Linked DNA regions of Homo sapiens. The protein of the gene in region 1 purifies or fractionates together with the protein of each later gene. This does not show direct contact. Each region holds a gene or a part of one and is shown in the gene's direction. Other genes may lie near its edges. The genes, in order: TMPRSS11A, PCDH1, CYRIB, SERPINB6 and RAB6B.

What was found.
Region 2: the proteins of TMPRSS11A (region 1) and PCDH1 purify together in Homo sapiens (affinity purification with mass spectrometry; one large-scale study listed by BioGRID and IntAct). This does not show direct contact.
Region 3: the proteins of TMPRSS11A (region 1) and CYRIB purify together in Homo sapiens (affinity purification with mass spectrometry; one large-scale study listed by BioGRID and IntAct). This does not show direct contact.
Region 4: the proteins of TMPRSS11A (region 1) and SERPINB6 purify together in Homo sapiens (affinity purification with mass spectrometry, with the first as the bait; one large-scale study listed by BioGRID). This does not show direct contact.
Region 5: the proteins of TMPRSS11A (region 1) and RAB6B purify together in Homo sapiens (affinity purification with mass spectrometry; one large-scale study listed by BioGRID and IntAct). This does not show direct contact.

What each region holds. Positions count from the first base shown.
Region 1 is NC_000004.12:67,908,328-67,911,832, reverse strand, and holds the end of TMPRSS11A (transmembrane protease serine 11A), read left to right. Parts: intron 1-329; coding exon 330-491; 3' UTR 492-2,438; downstream 2,439-3,505. UniProt on the Homo sapiens protein: Probable serine protease which may play a role in cellular senescence. Overexpression inhibits cell growth and induce G1 cell cycle arrest.
Region 2 is NC_000005.10:141,864,223-141,868,628, reverse strand, and holds part of PCDH1 (protocadherin-1 isoform 2 precursor), read left to right. Parts: coding exon 1-60; intron 61-150; exon of another isoform or gene 151-1,159; intron 1,160-2,426; exon of another isoform or gene 2,427-2,557; intron 2,558-3,201; coding exon 3,202-4,406. UniProt on the Homo sapiens protein: May be involved in cell-cell interaction processes and in cell adhesion.
Region 3 is NC_000008.11:129,845,134-129,849,539, reverse strand, and holds part of CYRIB (CYFIP-related Rac1 interactor B), read left to right. Parts: intron 1-170; coding exon 171-297; intron 298-2,665; coding exon 2,666-2,736; intron 2,737-4,406. UniProt on the Homo sapiens protein: Negatively regulates RAC1 signaling and RAC1-driven cytoskeletal remodeling. Regulates chemotaxis, cell migration and epithelial polarization by controlling the polarity, plasticity, duration and extent of protrusions.
Region 4 is NC_000006.12:2,961,044-2,965,449, reverse strand, and holds part of SERPINB6 (serpin B6), read left to right. Parts: intron 1-3,319; exon of another isoform or gene 3,320-4,406.
Region 5 is NC_000003.12:133,839,817-133,844,222, reverse strand, and holds part of RAB6B (ras-related protein Rab-6B), read left to right. Parts: intron 1-2,559; coding exon 2,560-2,613; intron 2,614-2,832; coding exon 2,833-2,938; intron 2,939-4,406. UniProt on the Homo sapiens protein: The small GTPases Rab are key regulators of intracellular membrane trafficking, from the formation of transport vesicles to their fusion with membranes. Rabs cycle between active GTP-bound and inactive GDP-bound states.

The sequences.
Region 1 (3,505 bases):
AAGCATGAAGTGGCTACCTCTTGGAGAACAGCTTGCGTGAGGTAACATGGGACATAACTGCTTTTCAAGCCTCTTCATGTTTTTTCGTTTTTGCCTTTTTTAACTAAGTGCTGTTTACTCTAACAAAATAAATTTTATTTTTTAAATGTGAAAGTTGAACCTTAAGGCTCTTTGTAATATTAAAATCCATGTCTCAATTAATTATTCTGTGTTGATAGTCTATACATGTACTGTCTAGTAACAAAATATGTGATTCATCAAAATATCTTAAATAATGAGCTTTATGTTTAGCTAATTTTCTTTCTTTTTTCTTATGTTTTTATTTTTAGGGTGATTCTGGGGGACCTTTAGTCACAAGGGATCTGAAAGATACGTGGTATCTCATTGGAATTGTAAGCTGGGGAGATAACTGTGGTCAAAAGGACAAGCCTGGAGTCTACACACAAGTGACTTATTACCGAAACTGGATTGCTTCAAAAACAGGCATCTAATTCACGATAAAAGTTAAACAAAGAAAGCTGTATGCAGGTCATATATGCATGAGAATTCAACTATTTAGTGGGTGTAGTACAACAAAGTGATATTAAATTACTGGATCTAGTAACATGAAACACACAACGTAAGTTATTTAGAATCACTTTAATCAACCAATAATCCTTAGCCAATTTATAAGGGACTTTTATTTGTAAAGTAATGGATCTGGCTTGAAAAATACGGTAGAGATACTTAGCTCTTTAAATCACGAATGTTGAAGTACCAGTGAGACTCAATACATATTTTTGAAGATAGTCCATGGGATTTTTAGAATGTCGTTGTCAAGGGTCTCCTTTTAACTGAGAAACTTTTTGAACTCACAAAGTGTTCAAGAAACCCTTGTATAATTCCCTACATTTCTCTCGAGCTCACAAATACTTTTTTTTCTTTTTCCTTATTCAATCAGATTTTCCAAAGTACCTTTCCACCATAAGAAATGAATTTTCTACTTCTACACCCATTTGAGAGACACCAATAAAAGAAAGTCATATGTAGGAAACAAAGTCTGATAGTAAAACAAGCCAGAGATCTTCTAACTTTTTTTAGTTATAAAACCTCTAATTTTTGGTGACTTTTCTACACACACACACACATACAGTCACATAGATATTCTTATCCTACAGATATAATCAGAAAAATCCCGATTAATGAATTATATATAGATAGATAGAGTGATTAGTTAATCAAAACTATATATTTGTTAAAAATTTGGGAGAAGGTGATGGTAATTTCATTAGTCCCAAAACACCGGCATAAGAAATTTGACATTTCACAGATGCACTTACATATTTTGACCACAAGGGGGAAATTTTGTGCATTATTATTGTAGGGTTAAATGCCTGAAAAAAATAAGCATTTACTAATACCTTGAAAAATCAAAGAACATTATGTTCCTCCGTAGCAAGAAAAATTTTATGCCCTCGCATTGCTACAGCCAAATAGCTTATAAGGCTTATGGCAATGTCCCAACTATTGCAATCATAAAACCCTAGTTTTAGAAAAATTTGAAAATAAATATAAAATTTGAGCACCTACTGCATATAACACATGGGGCTATAACATATAACATATAGTATGTTTTCTCTTTTGGACCACTTTGTTATATGTGGTCCACAAGAGAAAACATACTCCATCAGCAACGTGTCTCCTGAAGTCATTAGGAGAGTAAGGCTCATGTATTTCGTAATACAATTAAATTAAGGCTTTATGGAAGCAATTATTCTGCTTGGCAATGCCTGTGAAATATTATGGTCTGCAGGCTGGGGAGTCATTTACTCATTTAGCCCAAATATAAGACAAATCATTGGAACGATGAACTTGCTTTATAATAATTTCCCTCACATGCTATTGAGAAGGCATGAAAATAATCCTAAAATATCTAAAAGAGATATGCAGTTCACTCATAAAACACTTGATTCATAATTTAGACTCATAGAATTTTAAAGCTGAGAAGAGATTGCATGTCACATAGGCCAATATACTTATGTTATGTTTAAGAATATGAGTATATTCTTAACTATTTTTATTGAATTCTTAACTATTTTTATTGAATCATCAGATCTGTAAAATTTTAAGTGAGAGCTATTGAACCTGTATTAAGATAGAAAACTCTTAAGATAAGAATTTTAAATGACGAGATTCATTTAGGCAGCTGGCTGCCAATTCTCTGAATTCACTTCAAGACAAAGTTTCTTCTTCATATATAAATATACATAGGCATATAAATTATTCTATATTATGGTGGTAAAACTTAATGCTGACTTTGGATGTTCAGATTCAGGAAATGATCTTAGAATTATGAACTTTGTATTTTTAAACTATTTGGTGCAGCATTTCATTTTGGGTCACATGTAAGCAGATATTGATATGTCATTTTTAATCTAATAAAGTTGGTGATCAGAGCATTCTACAAACAATATCACTGAGTTTGTTTTAGGCCAGTATCATGAATCTTTCAACTGTCATTAAAATCACATTTCTTTTAAATAACTAGTTTGGATCACTCTGAAGCTGAGTTCACAAACTTGGCACTATTAATATTTTGATCTGGATAATGCTTTATTGTAAGGGGCTCTCCTGTTCATTGCAGAATACTTAGCAGCATCCCACTAGATGCCTGTAGCATACCCCTTTTCTCAAATTATTATAATAAAAAATATCTCCAGACATTGGCAAAGGTCCCCTAAGGTATAAAATTGTCCCCTTTTGAGAACCACTATTCTGGATTCACTTGATCATTTTTAGAAATGTGAGAGATGACTCAAAGTCATGACATCAAATATTCAGAAACTATAGTTTTCTGATCAAGCTGAACATTCACTATCATGTTCCTAAAAGAAATAACAGAATACATGACTGGTGCTTCAGTCTGTGGCTGTTTCAAATACAGACTGATCTCCCCGCACGTAATGTCCTCAAAGAATTTGTCTTATGCTTCTGCCTGAACTAGAGTATAGTCATAGAGCACCATTAAAGTTTTCCATGAAGACAGGGCTTTATGAAAAACACCCTCTACCTTGACCAAAATCCACAGTAGGAAATACATTTTACATCACAGCTCCCTACATATACAACCAAATACATACAAAAATTGAAACAGAAGTTTCATAAAACAATACTTACCATTACAAAATGCAAGGAAATCTAATATTTTCTACTTTATTGTACTCTATGCTGCTCAATTCTATTCTACTTTTAAAAAAACATTTACCCCGTCGAATAAATTGATTCCACAATCTAATCAATCATGACCGGCAATGCCAATAAATGTTCTCAAATAATCATTCACTATTATATTTTTTATTTGTATAAATTTAAGGGGTACAAAGTGCAGTTTTGTTACATGGATATATGTACAGTGGTGAAGTCTGAGCATTTAGTGTATTATTAACATTCATTTGGGGAGGAGTGGAACAGGATAACAGAATAGAAGCCTCCACTGATTGTCCCCCTTCCCAAAGGACACCAATTT
Region 2 (4,406 bases), on another chromosome or scaffold:
CGGCCCTCCTATGAGGCCGAACTATCTGAGAATAGCCCCATAGGCCACTCGGTCATCCAGGTGAGAGGCCCCCTCCGTATAACTGTCAGGGTGACCCACCACTAGAAATGGGAGCCCACCCAACCAGGTGAGAGTTCCCTTCACTTAGGGGAAAAACTGCCAGAATACTGTAGTGAGACCCCTTCTCCCCAAACTCAGCCAGGGGAGTCTTTCCCACCCCACCCCAGCAGGTGATATTACTTTCCTCTATCAGGCTACTTAGGTGACAGTGAAATAGCATATGAACAGTTTCCCGTGACCCCTAAGGCAGACTCAAGCTGGGGGAACCTCTGAGAAGTAAAACTCCCGCCCTAGTCAAGTAGATCCTTCTCTGCTAGCCAGGTGAGCTGAGTTGGAACAAAGGAATCACCGTTTATCCAGGTAGAATCTCTCCTGAGATGAGAGTATCTTCCCAACCAGGGATAGTTTCTCTTTAGCCAGATGAGGTTTTCCTGAAGCTGGAGGATATAGCCTCATTTTGCCTCTTCCTGACAAAGTCAGATGAGATCATTTTAGCCAGGTGGGACCCTCAGAGTTCTGAAAAAACATACTAGGGTGTCTGTATACATGCCTCCTCCCCTAGGCATGGGGTGCCCATAGATGTGGGGTGCTTGGTACAGTGGGGTTCAGTGGGGGGTCAATTTCCTCTGTTGAAGTTCTCAGCACCCCTCTCCATGGGAACTGCCCCAGGCGCTAGGCAGCTTGGTGGGGCTGGGGACTGGGAGGGAGCAAAGAAAGCGTCTCTGCAGACAGGTGGGTGTATCTCCCGCTGTCATCTCAGCTCTGGCCTCCTGCCAGCCCCAGCTCCTTTCCCCTTCCCCATGGGCTGAAGATGCCTCTCTCTTTGATGTGAGGGAGCTGAGGAGGCTCGGCCTGCCCTGGACACCATTACCCATCCTGGAAAACCCTTAGTCCTGGGTCCTCAAGCCAAAGTGGGAGATGGGTGGGAGTTTCAGCCTTTTTTTTTTTTTTTAGAGCCTGGTGGACTGGGACCTGGAAAAGAGACTGAGAAAGAAAAGGGAGACAGACAGTCGGGGATAGCAAATAATAATAGCCTAGGTGCCAGGCACCGTTCTAAACACATGATGTGTATTATATCATTTAATCCTTACAGTACAAGGTAAGTATTATCCCCATTTTGCAGATGAGAAACCGGGCCCAAACAGATTAGAAAACTCGCCTGATATCCTACAGCTAATGAGTTCAGAGTCCACCTTTGCCGCAGCCAAGAGTCTGGCTTCAGAGCCTAGGTGTGTAAGAGCTTTACCACCTCCCAGTGAGGTGAAGCGGGAGAGTAGGGCAGAGAGTAAGCAGAGAGGTCAGCAGGGCTGAAAAGAGAGGATGGAAGAAAACAGGCTGTGGGAAAGGGGAAGAATCAGAACTGAGCAAGGATAGAAAGGAGACAGAAGCCAAGAGTCACAGAGACAAAGAGAGGTAAGACAAGAGACAGATAAGCTGGAAGACCAATCTAGAGCCAAGGGAGACTGGGGATCCTCATCATAAAGTTGATGACAGGTAGACTGGGGTGAGGGGAGGAGAAACTGTTAGGGTTTGGCACTCAGAGATGTGAGCAGAGACCAGGGTACCTGGGGAACCATTGCCCAGGAGTCTTCACTGTAGGAAAAGCCCAGGCGGGGATAGCTGGAGTTCCCATTCCCAAGGAGGAGAGGACTGGCAGTGGCTTGAGGGCTCACTAGGTGCAGTGCCCACTACTGCATTAGCACTGATTTTTCAGAGGCAGGCGGGTAGGAGGGTAGATGGTTGGACAGACAAAAAGAAATACATGCTCTTTAGGGAGCACTTTCCCTGTGCCGGGCAATGTCAGGCATTTTTACCTGTATTATCCCATTTGATGCTCACCACAGTTCTGTGAAATAGGTTACATTATTATCCCCATTTCACACATTCATAGACTGAGGCTTAGGGAGGTTAAATAATTGGCCCAAGGTCACATAGTTACTTGGGAAGTGGTATAACTGGGATTTGAACCCAGGACTCTTCTGTTTTGTTACCCCAGAGACTCTGCCAAGTTATGCTTATTCTCCCCTCACTCCCCACAGCAGTCACATTCTGTCTGGCTGTGACCTAACTCCAGCCCTCATGTTTCTCCCTGCCCAGTAGTACCCCATGGCCATTCCCACCTGGGTCCTCTTCCCCATTACCAACCATGTTTGTATAGAGTTGAGTCGAGTGCGCGTTGGAGTTGGCGTGGGAGGGTGTGCCCGCTGACTGCAGAGGGACAGACAGTTCATTGTTTGATGCTGGGAGCCCAGCCCACTGCCAGCAGGCTCTGTGGCCTGCATCAACCCCTCCCTCCTGGCTGCAGGCTCAGGCCGGATTCCTCGCATTGGTGCCTCGCCAGCCGGTGCCAGTCGGGAGGAGAAGTTGCTGCTGAAACAGGTTTCCCCGGTTTGACAGAGCGGTGGCTGGGGCCCGGCCTGGAGGGCTTCTCTGACCCACAACCCTACCTGACTTCTTTCAAAAGAAATCCCCCAACCTGGGGCCTTCAGATGGGCATGTGAGTCTTTACTCATGTGTGCAAACACACATATGCACAAACACATATACCTTCTCACACAAAAATCACACATAATCACACATTCTGACACAATCATACACATACAAACACATATACCTTCTCACACAAACATATCACATTTAATCACACATTCTGACACAATCATACACATACATATGTGCATGCGTGCGTGCATGTAGTGCACATTCACACGGGCACACACACCGCCTCTACTACTCGCACCTCTCCATCTCTTCAGGAGGGTTCAGGCAGGGTTCATTGGTGAAATGGCTTCCCTAGTTCTATTGGATCCTCATCCTCTCCTGGTATTTTTGTGGACCCATACAGCAATGACAAGTGAGGTTTAATTCTGCCCTGTCCCATCTCCAATAGTTGCCTGTAGCACTGTTGAGGATTTGCAGGCTGCATCTGGGCTCTTCAGGAAAATAGGTTAGTAATGCCTGCCAGAATGTCCGAATTGGGAAAAGGCAGGACACACATGGCTTCTGGAAAGGGAGCGATGTTGGATTGGCTGTGTCTGCCATGCTTGTTGGAAAGGACATTGGCAGCATGTGTGCCCCTTTATTTGCTATCCCTGATCTAAACCATCTCTGTTCTCCTTGTTTTTCTCTCCTGCCCTATAGGTGAAGGCCAATGACTCAGACCAAGGTGCCAATGCAGAAATCGAATACACATTCCACCAGGCGCCCGAAGTTGTGAGGCGTCTTCTTCGACTGGACAGGAACACTGGACTTATCACTGTTCAGGGCCCGGTGGACCGTGAGGACCTAAGCACCCTGCGCTTCTCAGTGCTTGCTAAGGACCGAGGCACCAACCCCAAGAGTGCCCGTGCCCAGGTGGTTGTGACCGTGAAGGACATGAATGACAATGCCCCCACCATTGAGATCCGGGGCATAGGGCTAGTGACTCATCAAGATGGGATGGCTAACATCTCAGAGGATGTGGCAGAGGAGACAGCTGTGGCCCTGGTGCAGGTGTCTGACCGAGATGAGGGAGAGAATGCAGCTGTCACCTGTGTGGTGGCAGGTGATGTGCCCTTCCAGCTGCGCCAGGCCAGTGAGACAGGCAGTGACAGCAAGAAGAAGTATTTCCTGCAGACTACCACCCCGCTAGACTACGAGAAGGTCAAAGACTACACCATTGAGATTGTGGCTGTGGACTCTGGCAACCCCCCACTCTCCAGCACTAACTCCCTCAAGGTGCAGGTGGTGGACGTCAATGACAACGCACCTGTCTTCACTCAGAGTGTCACTGAGGTCGCCTTCCCGGAAAACAACAAGCCTGGTGAAGTGATTGCTGAGATCACTGCCAGTGATGCTGACTCTGGCTCTAATGCTGAGCTGGTTTACTCTCTGGAGCCTGAGCCGGCTGCTAAGGGCCTCTTCACCATCTCACCCGAGACTGGAGAGATCCAGGTGAAGACATCTCTGGATCGGGAACAGCGGGAGAGCTATGAGTTGAAGGTGGTGGCAGCTGACCGGGGCAGTCCTAGCCTCCAGGGCACAGCCACTGTCCTTGTCAATGTGCTGGACTGCAATGACAATGACCCCAAATTTATGCTGAGTGGCTACAACTTCTCAGTGATGGAGAACATGCCAGCACTGAGTCCAGTGGGCATGGTGACTGTCATTGATGGAGACAAGGGGGAGAATGCCCAGGTGCAGCTCTCAGTGGAGCAGGACAACGGTGACTTTGTTATCCAGAATGGCACAGGCACCATCCTATCCAGCCTGAGCTTTGATCGAGAGCAACAAAGCACCTACACCTTCCAGCTGAAGGCAGTGGATGGTGGCGTCCCACCTCGCTCAGCTTACGTTGGTGTCACCAT
Region 3 (4,406 bases), on another chromosome or scaffold:
CAGACATAAGATTTGAATGTATCAGTGTGGCTACTTGTGAACATACTGCATTCAACTAATGGATAGAAATTTGAATAAAATATTTCAGAAGAGGTTTTTCTTGTGTGTGTGTGTTTTTAAAAAGAATTTTGTAATGCACTTCTTCCATGCATATCTTATCTACTCTTCAGGGAATACAGAAGCAGATTTACAAATGAAGAGACAGTGTCATTCTGCTTGAGGGTAATGGTGGGTGTCATAATACTCTATGACCACGTACATCCAGTGGGAGCATTTGCTAAAACTTCCAAAATTGATGTAAGTTATTGTTTTATATAAATAATTTCAAACGAGTTTCTCCATGGAAACCATAGGATTTTATTTTATGATAAGAGCCAGCAAACCGGACTCTCACAAAACTCAGATTTATAGTTTGTGAAATGGTGGACTTTCATCTCCTCTGTCCCTGTGCTGTTTTTCTTGTGGCCTGTATTCAGGTGGAATAGAATGATCAAAGGATGACTATATTGTCTAGTGAGTACCTCCTGGAAGGCTTCTACTACGTATTTGGCAATATAAATAGATAATTAGATATAAGGAATTTTGAGTCATATCCTTTAATTCCTTTGGCCAAAGGCCATTTCAAATAAAATGTTTATTTCAGAATGCATATAAAAAGTCAGTAGTGCTGCTGGGCGTGCTGGCTCATGCCTGTAGCCCAAGCACTTTGGCAGGCTGAAGCAGGAGGATCACTTGAGCCCAGGAGTAGAAGACCAGCCTGGGCAGCATAGTGAGACCCCCATTTCTACAAAAAAAAAAAAAAAATTAGCCAGGTGTGGTGGCACACATCGGTAGTCACAGCTACGTTGAGAGGCTGAAGTGGGAGGATCCCTTGAGCCCAGGAGTTCCAGCCTGCAGTGAGCCACGATCACACCACTGCATTCAGTCTGGGTGAGAGAGAGACCCTGTCTTGAAATTAAAAAGACAGCCAGTAGGATGCTCCAGTGGAAAAAGATGAAGACTTTATGTATTTTCCCTCCCCTACCTAGTCATAATAATTTGTGACTATAGTTGGCTCTCGACTTTTCTTCTCTCTGTAAAAGTTTGTATTAGAAATAGTTTTCTAATTTCTCTACTTCGTAGTTTCTTTCCCCAACCTCTCACATCTAGTTCATTAGTGTTTGGTGAGAATTGTCTTCCCGTTTCCCTTTCATAGCTAGTTTAGGCTCTTAGCATTTCGGATCTCGATTACTGATTACTAGCCAAGCTTGTTGCCTTCATGTACACCTGTCATATGTAAAGAGAAATGAGTTAATATTTACTGTATGGTTGCCATGTCCCAGGAATTTTACGTTTGTTCTCCCTTGTGACTCTGAAAATACTCTTTTAGGTGTCATCTCCCTTTACTGACAGGGCAACTAAAGTTTAGCAGATCAAGTAATAGAATTGCTAGTAGGCCGGGTGCAGTGGTTTATGCCTGTAATCCCAGCACTTTGGCAGGCCGAGGCAGGCGGATCACCTAAGGTTAGGAGTTCAAGACCAGCCTGGCCAACATGGTGAAACCTCATCTCTACTGAAAAAAAATACAAAAATTAGCTGGGTGTGGTGGCACACATCTGTAGTCCCAGCTACTCGGGAGGCTGAGGTGGGAGAATCGCTTAAATCCAGGAGGCAGAGGTTGCAGTGAACCAAGATTGCGCCACTACACTCCAGCCTGGGTGACAGAGCGAGACTCCATCTCAAAAATAAAAAGAGTTGCTAGAAAAGGTAGAACCCACATTTCTCTGGCTTCCAAAGCCTGTGTTCTTTCTGCTGTATTATGCTTTTTTATAACAACCAGGCTAATATATCTTAAATACCATCGTCATCAAGTGGTTACCTTTTAAAATAACCTGTGAGTCCCCTGCTGCCAGGCATAACACTTCGTATAACTCATCCTGGCTTTCAGCCTCTCATAACTCCAGGTGCAGTGCTGAAAAATTCCTATCTGTCCTCTGTGTGATACTTTACTCTGTGAGGTTTCTCTACCTGAAAGTTCTTCTTTTCCTTAGTAACATACTCATTCTGTCCTTTATTTTTTATTTTATTTTATTTTTTGTGACGGAGTCTCGCTCTGTCACCCAGGCTGGAGTGCAGTAGTGCGATCTCGGCTCACTGCAAGCTCTGCCTCCTGGGTTCACGCCATTCTCCTGCCTCAGCCTCCCGAGTAGCTGGGACTACAGGCGCCCACCACCACGCCTGGCTAATTTTTTTGTATTTTTAGTAGAGACGGGGTTTTACCGTGTTAGGCAGGATGGTCTCGAACTCCTGACCTTGTGATCCGCCCGCCTCAGCCTCCCAAAGTGTTGGAATTACAGGCCTGAGCCACCCTGCCCAGCCCATTCTGTCCTTTAAATCGCCACTCAGCACCTTTTCCAGAAGTCTTCCCTTAGCAAACCGTTTGTTTTTCATTGCATGTGTGGTATATTAGTTTGACTGATTTTGTTCTCAAAAAGATTTTGTTTTCACTAAGTGAGAATAATAACTCTTAGGTTGGGTTTTTTTCTGTTCTAAGAATAATTAATTTGACATAGTATGTAATCTCTTGAGTTCCATAGTTATGGTCTTGATTTATTTTACTATTTTGAAAAGGAATGTTACATGAAAAAAATGGCTGTTTTACCTTTTCTGTTTTCTTTTTCTTTAGATGAAAGGTTGTATCAAAGTTCTTAAGGACCAACCTCCTAATAGTGTGGAAGGTCTTCTAAATGCTCTCAGGTGTGTATATGTACGTGTACGTATGTACAGAAAAAATCTGTAAGGAAAATGGTCGATGTTTATGTAAAGAAAATGCATTAAGTGTGAATAGGATATAAAAATAAGTGTTCAAGCTAGAAATATGAAGATCTTATTTTGTTTATTGATAATCTTGCTTCCAAACACTGGTTACGGTATTTTATGATGAGGAATGTGTGGGACACATGACAATAGCAGCTTCATTTTCTGGTTGAAGATTTTGGCTTTTACTTGTTGCTTCTCTTCAAACAGAGATTGCTTGTTTTTGTAATAAAAGTATTATATACCAGTTATAAATAAAATTCAGAAAACATAAGAAAATGTAAATAAAAAGAAATAATGTAATCTCACCATTTTGAGATAAGCCACTATTAGCATATAGCCTTCCAGAGTTTTTTCTTTACATATATAGATAATAGCTCTATGTAGTAGTTATCTTTTTACAAAATAATATCTTACAAAGTGGCTTGTAACTAGCTCTTTCCTCTTAATAGAATGTAATTACATTTGTGCTCAGACTTGTGTTCTGTTATTTTTATGTATTTCCTACAATAAAAATTAAGTAGTCATTATTTAATGTCTTTTCTTAGATTAGTTTTACTTAATTTAGTTGCTCAAACTTCTACAAATGCTAGAACATTATTTCGTTATTTAGAGTTGGAATCTCGCTCTGTCACCCAGGCTAGAGTACAGTGGCACAATCTTGGCTTATTGGAACCTCGGCCTCCCAGGTTCAAGTGCTTCTCCTGCCTCAGCCTCCCGAGTAGCTGGGATCACAGGCATGTGCCTGTATTTTGTATTTTTAGTAAAGACAGCGTTTCACCATGTTGGCCAGGCTGGTCTCAAACTCCTGACCTCAAGTGATCCACCCACCTTGGCCTCCCAGAGTGCTGAGATTACAGCATGAGCCACTGTGCCCAGCTGCTAGAACATTTTTAAATGAAAATCTCGATACTTTATAACATTTGACTACAGAGATTTAATTGGTAGTATTCACATGACATAAAAGATGATGTCCCATTACTTGATTTTTTGAGGGTTTAAACACAAAAATTACATGAACACAGAAATATTTATATAATGATATTTACCACATAAAATGTAGGCTGTATCATTTCAGCTAAGCGGAACTGTCAAATGATTTTATTAAGATTATGAAAAAATGTTTAAAAATAGTTTTTAAAAGATTATGAAAAGTGTTGCATAAGCGGTAGCTGCCTGAATAAAGGTGATCTATTCTAAATGAACATCAGCAAGATTAAGGAACATAATTTAAAATCCTTATAATGTCAAACTATTTTAACCATAAGCCTAGTTTTTAGAATTCTGTATTCTTGGGGTTTTTACAACGCATACTTCAGTGGTTTTGCCAATATTTAATGATATCATGAGTCTTTCCTCCTTGGTTTCTTTCTGAATACTCCCTGTGTCTCAGTCAACCTGATTTTTCTCCCAAGACTTTGTCTTTCTGATTGGTCAGGCTCTTTGAAGCCAGCAAGTGGCAGGAAATCTTTTTTAAAAACTTGAAGGTAATTGAGATCTAGGAGGTTTTAGGATTCTTTCTTGAGCTTGAAGGTAGTATGCCTAACTCAGAATCTACGTTTCACTTTAAGGGTAGTTCAGTTTCCTTTTCCTTAGAATGAAAGCAGAGG
Region 4 (4,406 bases), on another chromosome or scaffold:
TGTGCTGTGTTTGAGAAAAAAAATTAGTCTGACCAGCCTGCCAAACTATAAATTGGCCATGTATTATAGTAGGGAAACTTGTCCCCGTCTATGAACATTTCTCTTCGGCGTGAAAGTCGCGCATGCTCAGCAGCATGGTGACAGACGGAGGGAGAGGAAAATGCAGCTGGTAGATTATTCCTTGTGTCGAAGCATATGAAAAAAGTACTGAAAGGGTTTGACTGACCTGTAGAACATTTGGGGAGAATTTGAAAATACATAGTACATAGAAAACTAAGGAAAGGGGGGAAAGGCACTATTAATATAAGGCAAATCAGCATTACATAAAAAGGAAATGGGTTCCCATCCCACCACCTGGCTTAGCATCGAATGCTATTTAGTGATAATAAAGCAAACCTGTGGATCGGGACCGGGCCCTCGGCCTCTAGATTAGGAAGGCAATAGATAATGTCTAGAATTTGGCCGGGTGCCTGTAGTTCCAGCACTTTAGGAGGCTGACGCTAAAGGATTGCTTGAGGCCAGGAGTTCGAGGCTGCAGTGGGCCGTGATCATGCAACTGCATTCCAGCCTGGGCGACAGCGTGAGACCCCTACCCTAATAAAAATAAATACATACATAAAATAAAACATGATAAAGTTATTAGGTCAAAAATAGTAGTATACACGTTATGTAGAAATATGGTGGTAAATACCAGAAGAAAGAGCAAAGGGTTTGGAAGTGATTGCTTCTGGGGAGTTGGGAGGGCTGAGAAGGAGCTTGTTGTCTTTTATAACATCTCTTTTAACACCACCTGATTTTTAAACTGAATGTATATATAGTAATTTCATAAAAAGAAGAGTTAACCAACCCCCTCCATAAATTATATGCTATAGAAAATGTGAAAATCCAGAAAAACACAAAAAACATAAAAATTACCGTTAGAAACATTTGGTGTATAGTATTTCCCTCTATTCTGTCTGTAAATTGTGCCTACACTTACCTTTTTTCCTAATTTACATGGATAAATTTAAATTGTATGTATAGTTTTATATCTTTTTTAATGTAATCTTGTGTATTCCCATGTCATTACTGTGATTTTTATTATTATTAGCCCTATTTATATCCCATAATGTTGTACATAATGTTTTATTATGTACAAAACCTGTGAGTTTTACCTTCAGTGAAATTCCTAGAAGTGGAATTTTTAATTCAGATAGTATGAATGTTTCCATGACATTTTCTTTTCTTCCTTCACTTTATTGTATTTTACTTTTATTTTTGACATAATTCTAAATCATACTCAGGAAATACTGGTGTACCAATTTACAGTATTGTTACTGATCGTGGGTTCTTAGATTCTCATGCAGTGGAAATTGACATGAGACAGAGAAAGTGTCCCAGACAAGGCTTTATAATGGGCTTATGCTGGAGCAGGAGGGCAGCGGCACAGGGGCAGGAGTTCCCGGGCTGGCCCTCGGGACAGGTGTTCCTGGTGTTTTAGGGTGACATGGATAGTCATGAGGTGTGTCAGCAGCATTACACACGCTAGTGGCAGGCACCGGGGAACATCATGTTAGCACAGATGTGTCATGATCAGGGCATGGCAGATGAGCCCCTGAGGAGAGGGTTTTAGTAATACAACAAGGCAAGAGGTCAGGATCGTCGTTCTGATCCTGTATGCATGTGGGCATCAGGCTTAACTCCCTTGGGTAAGATTTGGGGTGGAACATGGCTTATCTTGTTTCCCTCCCTGGTTTGCATGGTCTGGTGGGCAGGTGTGATGGCGTGGGGGATGTATGGAAAATACGGGAGTGGGTACGGGCCAAGCTCTGTCCCTGCTGCCTCCGTATTACTTGCATGGCGTGAGAAGGATTGCCTGTCTTTGTCAGTATTAGCATGAATTGTTTTTGTATTTGCAAGGTTCATGGTTTGAAAAGGCATCTTTAATGTACTCTCCACCATTGCTTTTTGGGAAGGCTGTGCACCATGGTGTTAAGAGAGTGAACTACAGAGCCATGCGGTCCTGGCTTCCAGCCGTCATTCTGCCATTGTTGCCCTGGGTTCTCTGGAGACATGGTACTTAAAGAGCTAAGGCCCGATTTCTTTGCTTATAAAACGTAGGTGTTCTCAGCAGCTATCTCAGAGGGTAAGGGTCTTTCAGTGTGGACCTAGCACATAGTATATATCAAAAAAGTGATATTTTTTTCTGAAGTTGAAACTTTTAAATATAATTATTAGCTATTGTCTTTCTTTTTTGGGGGTAAATTTGTTAATGTCCTTTGCACGTGTTTCTACTGGGGTCTGTTTTTCCTATTTTTTTAGTAGCCCAGTTACTCCATTATTTTTCAGTTTTAAGAGTATTTTACTGATTCTGGCTGCTTTTTGGGTAGACCATCAAATTGTTTGCTAACTGTGCTCATTTTGTCTCCTTTCTGACAATCTCCTTTCTCATTATGTTTCATGAGTTGTATTTGCCTTTGCCAGAACTATCTGAACAAAGTTACACAAGGTTGGGACGACAGATATTTTTATCTTGTTCCTGTTTGGGGAGTTAAGGGACTAATGTTCTATCATCAGCTGTGCTGGTGGCTGCTGAAGTAGGTAATTCTTACCTTGTTAAGGAAGCATGGGAAGTACCACTTGCTGTTTGACGTAAGGGTGTTTATCAGGAGTAGGATATTCAGTTATTTAATGACTAACATAGTTTCTGCTAAGAAAATTAAATCTCTAGGACATCCTTGATTTATTGTTTCTTTGTTGCTCAGCAATTTTTATGTAAGGCATAGATAGAATTTTACCTTTCACGGCTGTCAGCAGTGTTTTCAACTAAGAAATGGAATATCATTACTGACCTCACTGTGGGCTTTGAAAATTGAGCTACATTTTTGCTCTTCCTTCTGCATTTGGTATTAACAATTATTGAATGTTAGAGATGGAAGGGAACCCAGATTATCTGGTATATGCTTTTCCTCATACAGAGAGGAAACTGGTATCAGGAGTCCAGTGATTTGCCCAGGGTACCAGAGCCAGGACTAGAGACCCTGTCTTCCTCCTGACTCGTGCCATCTCCTCCGAATATCCTGGTCTGGTTTCTCCAGTTCAGTGTTTCAGATTAAATCCCCTGACACAGTAAAACTCATGTGCACTGACTTCTCCTCCGAATATCCTGCTTTGGTTTCTCCAGTTCAGTATTTCAAATTAAATCCCCTGACACAGTGAAACTCATGTGCACCGACTTCTCCTCTGCCCCAGATGGTGTAACCTGGGCTGGCCAGACAGGCACCTCCCCAGTGGGCGTGTCTTCAGACAAAGGTGGCTTTGCTTTGTTGAAGTTACTGATATAAAGATCAGCGCCTGAAACAGATTCTCCGGGATATTACCGGAGACGGAGTGTTTTATTATTAGCCTTTCTTAGGTGGACATTTCCATTTGAATTAAAAGTCCTTTAGGCTGGGCGTGGTGCATGGCTGTAATCTCAGCACCTTGGGAGGCTGAGGCAGGAAGATCACTTGAGGCCAGGCGTTGGAGAGCAGCCTGGGCAAGGTGGCAAGAACCTTGTCTCTACAAAAAAAAAAGCGTAAGAGTCCTTCAGCATTTGAGGGGAAAACGTGTGCTGACGGTAGAATAGTCTAGGATGGGGTTGGGGGAGCATGTGGGACCTTCCCCTGGCCAGCTGACATGGTACTTAACCTCTGTCTTTTTTTTTTGGTTTATGGAGGAGCCATCTCACCTGGCAGCCTCTCCACGTGGGCTGAGCCCTCTTGGGGACAAAGACAGAAGTCCATGTCCCCAGGCCAGGGAAAACCCCACGTGTCAGGGTGTCTGCTGGCTTTGAGTCCTGAGACACGGACTTCACAGGCTGTGCTTCTTGCTTTGGGGCATCTCCTCTTTTCTTATTCTTAACCTAGAAGTTTCCCTGTTTTACCAATTGTTTCTCTTCAAGTTGATAAGCGGGCAGTTCTTGTGATCTAGAATCCAAAGAACCAAAAATAGGCCCAATTTTGCTTCAGTTCCGTGTAATGGCTACTTTTGTTTATACTGGTGTTCCCAGGGCTCTGCGGAATCCTGGATTTATTTATGTATCATCAAAGACTCCCTTATATTCAGAAGAATTTTAGTAATATGTACTTTCTATTGTCCTTTTATTAGAAATTAGTAATCTTAAAATATGTTTGGAAAGGCTTGGCAAGCCAGGAGTGCCCAGTGCCCCAAGTATTCTGTGTAATGAATAAAGAAGAGTTTGAAAACAAAATATTTAAACAAGCACAGCAAACAAGCTTTATCAGGTGTATGAGTTATTGTCTTGGTTTCCCGTGGCTGCTGTAACAAATGACCATGGATTCGTGGCTAAACTGCACATGTTTATTTTCTCAGAGTTCTGAGGTTGGAGGTTGGAAATGGGTTCCGCAGGGCCAGGCTCCTCCAGA
Region 5 (4,406 bases), on another chromosome or scaffold:
TCAGTAATGGTGTTTATGATTATGGAGGCCACTGGGTTGAGCTTTGCTGGGACTTCATCCAAGTGGCACAATTTCTTGTTTCATTTGGTGACTTCTCTGCCCTTTGTGGAAGCAGAAGTGCCTTGTGACATGTGAGGTGTGATGGGGTTGTCATCATTACAGTTATCAGTAGCATTACCATCAGGTGCCTACCTTTGAGAGATACGTTTCTCCATGGTTCTTTGCTTGTTAATTAGGCTATGTTAACAGAAACCCAAAATAACAGTGACTTAAACAAAATAGAACAATCTGAGCAGTCCAGCGCTGCTGAAGTAGCTCCTCAGGGTCAGGGAGTCAGCCTTCGTTGATGTCATCGCTCCTCTGTCATCCTCATCTGGATGGGCCACTATGACTCATCCCCACCGGACAGTGGGAAAGGGAGCAGCTGTGGGTACTCCCTACCCACAGAGGACCTGACCCCAAAGATGCCTACATCACGTTCACATCCCATTAACCAGAATGTAGCCGCCCAGCTGCAAAGAAGGCTGGGAAATATGTTCTTTATTTGGGGCAGCCCTGAGTCCATCTGCACACCCAGAATTCTGTTACTATAGAAAGGGAAACTACATACTGGGGACAACCAGCAGTCCCTGCCACCAGTCCTAAGCTCATGCACCTGGTTTTAGTTCAAAGGTGACTCTACAAAAGGAGCATGTCACTCCTGGGGAGCCTGTTGAGCATTGAGGAGTTGAGAGACTTCTACCTGCTATGCACATTTCTCCATAAGGGAATCAGAAGACAAGGATTGTCAATCTAACATACACCTGTGAAGGAAAAAGTCTGCATCCACAAGCACTGGTCATTGCAGATTTGTGCCTCGGTGGCTACACTATGCGAAGCTGTGGTAGAAAGAGCCCAGGTGCTGCCAAGTTTGCAGCTCTGATCTTCCCAGCCCTGCTACTGATGAGTGAAGTCACACTAGGCATGTCCTTTAACCCTCTGGTCTGTTCTTTCATCTCCAAAGTAAGGGATTGATTGGATTGTATCTAAGGTGTTTTGTCTAGTGCCCACATTCTAGCATCGTATGCTCCAGAGCGTAGAATGACCCCCCATATCTTTGTGTTATGAGGCAAGCTTCCAGGAGGGTGCAAGCCAGTCTCAGTCCTTTGTGGAACGAGTTGGGAGTGTGACTGTGTAAACATGCACACTTGTGCACACACATTGGTGCATACCTTTGCATTCAGCCTGGGGGGACTGGAGATATGACCTTTTCTATTTTCTTGGGCTTCCTTTGGTTGTGTTTTTTGCAGTCAAAAATCATGGCATTCCACACAATTAAACTTATTTATTAAACTTTATTTCAAAGGACTTTTTCTAATTTTAGTACTGTTATATGTTCATTGTGGAAAGTAGAGAAAAGTGTAATGAAGGAGTGTAATGAAGGAAAGAAAATGCTCTGTCACTATTCAGACCGTGATGCTATTAACATGTTAGCAGATTCCCTTCACTTCAGTGTCTAAGAAAACATGAAAAATACTCATAGATCTATTTGAGTTAATCTAATTGGGATCACTCGCCACATGATGTTTTATAACCTGTTTTTTGTTTATTTGTTTTTTTAACTGGATAACCGTTTCCCCAAATCCTTAAATATTTTTTCAAGAATGTGATTGTTAACAGCTGCCAAGGGTTCTAATCACATGGATATACCACACTATGCTTATTTAGTGCCGTGGACATTCAGGCTGTGTCCAAGTCTTTGTTATTATTGATTACATAGCAGTGATATCTCCATTTTACATTGACAGCATCTCAGTCCTACTGACAGGTACCGGGTGCCTGTGAGGCCCAGAGAGGTTGGTTGCCTGCCCAAGGCCACACAGCAAGTGAGTGGTGGGTCCTGGCCATCTGGCCACAAGGCTGGCTGCCTCTCACAGGTGCCAGGGCAGAAGAGGCATAGGTGTGGCACAGGGGAGCTGGTGACAGCTTCCAATGTTTTGGCTTGGGGAGAAAAGAGCCAGTGGGGCCTCCCAGCGAGAGGCCACTCTGGGTGGTCTGCAGTGCCCGCACCTGAGAAAAGCCATGCTGCTGTTTGCACCCACACAGCAGCAAGCTGCCTGCTCCTGCCCCCTGCCTCCCACCCTCCCGAGGTCAGTGTTGAGCCCAGGCCCATGCTTTAGGGCAGAGGGAAGAGGCTTTGGAAGCTGCAGGTTAGGCCATGAAGGGAACAAGGCAGGGAGTCCAGGTGGGGAGGGCAGGATATGTGCGTTGAGTGGCCTGAGTGGCCTTGCTCCTGGGGAGGCCTCCTCACCACTGCGCTCTCACTGCTTCTGAAGCACTTGCCCTCTCCAGAGAAGATCTCACCCTATAAAGGCCACCCTCATCTTTCCTCAGCTTGATCCCTCAGTGAGAGAGCCGCTGAGTGGTAGCAGGGAGGGGCAGGGAGGACAGAGCATGGCCACATTAGACCTGACATGAGCGTCCCCTCTTGCTGGTTATGCCACCACCTGTGGTCGCTAGGCTTTTGCCCCTTTGCATGAGACCTTTTGATTTTGACCGTTCTGTGCTTTTCTCTAACAGGCAACCATTGGGATTGACTTCTTGTCAAAAACCATGTACTTGGAGGACCGCACGGTGAGCACCTAATATCAGGACTGGGAGGGGCAGGGAGGGTTCCTTTGGGCTTATCCCCTAGGACCCTTAGCTGGGCACCACTGAGAGCACCTGCCGACACTAGGGGCTGGAGCTGGTGATGCCAGCATTGCAGAGCCCGGCTCTCCCAGTCCCCCGGACCAGGAGGACCTCACTGCCCCACTGACCCCTCTGCCCATGGTCCTGCCCTCCCTGAGACAGGTGCGACTGCAGCTCTGGGACACAGCTGGTCAGGAGAGGTTCCGCAGCCTGATCCCCAGCTACATCCGGGACTCCACGGTGGCTGTGGTGGTGTACGACATCACAAGTGAGTGAGGCTCTGCTCCTAAGGGAGGGTGGCTCATAGGGGGTCCAGGGCCCAGGTGTGACCCTGGCCAGGCCTGTGTGCATGTGTGTGCACACGCATGTGTGTGCACACGCATGTGTGTGCGATTGCTCCCTGAATGCAGAAAGGCAGGGAGCAGTGGTGAGTTGCCTTTGAACACCAACATGGTTTCCACTGCTCCCCACCCTCCTGCAACCGACAGGGGTTTATAGGGCCAGGTTGGTCCTGCTCGGAGTGGAGGCCAGCTTGTGGTGTGAGCAGATGCTCACAAGGTTGGCCCTGCTCCAGCCTCTCTGCACCCTCCCTCTCCCTGGCTGTCAGAAAGCTCCCTAAGGAGCTACTTCTATATGTGTGTCACCATGGGAGAAGACGCTGGTCCCTAGGCCAACCCCGGCCCAGCAGCTGTGGGTGCAGGACTCCCTGGGAAGGTAGGCAAGGGGGTCTGGAAGCGCAGTAGGCTGGTAACCCTTCTCCAGTACTGTGGCTCTTCAGGCCAGGGCAGGTGTTCTTAACAGGACTGCACAGCCTCAAGGGCGCACAGGGCCAGAGGTGGGGGTGGGGGGCCGAGGCAGAGGCCAGACCTGCAAGGCTCTTGTAATGGAACACACCTGATAAGCCCTCAGGGCTGTGGTTACCCTGAAGTGGGCGAATGCCCTAGGTGCTGTCCACAGCCTTAAAAATCACACAAGGAAGCATGCATGTCCCCGCGCTGGTGCATGCCCCCGCCACCCAGCCTGCTGCCCTGGCTCTGCCCACCCCTTCTGTCCACCTCTCTTCTGACCACAGGCCCCCTCCACACCTGAGTGCAGGTGGGAGCTGGGCCCGCAAGGGCCTGGGTTCACATGGCCTGAGGCACATCAGAAGGGATACCAGGCTGTGTGAAACTGAGGCTTCTGAGGACAGCTACCTCCCCTCCCCTTGGGTGTGCAGGCTGCCGAGTGGTGGGTATTGCCTTATAGCTGCTCTGCCCTGCAAGGCCTATCATGGCAGCTGAGGGGGGTCAGGCTGCCCAGAAGTGGCCTTGTCTCTCCTGGATTTTTGAGTGCACCTGGCTCCCCTGACTAGTCCCGGGGCCACCTTTCCCCTCCTCTCATCTGCAGAGCCTGAGGGTTCTCTTCAGAAACCCCTCTGGCCTTCCCCAAACTCTCCTGAGCTCCCATGGTGGGGACACCACTCAGTAGGGCCCTTCCTTCCCTAGAGGCTGCTGTGTCCTCCTCTGCCCACCCTCACTGTTCCCAAACTTGCCAAGTCGCGCGCGCATGTGTGTGTGTGTGTGTGTATGCACACACACGTGTGACCCAGTTCTCACTCTCCACTCTGAATCCCCAGAGTCAGGTCTCTCAGGTGGGCCCCTAAAGCCACTATTCCATGTGGCAAATCATGACACTGTGATCTTCCAGATGGGGTGATTCCTCTCCCACAAAGGGTGGCTGAACAGTGCAAGTGGCTC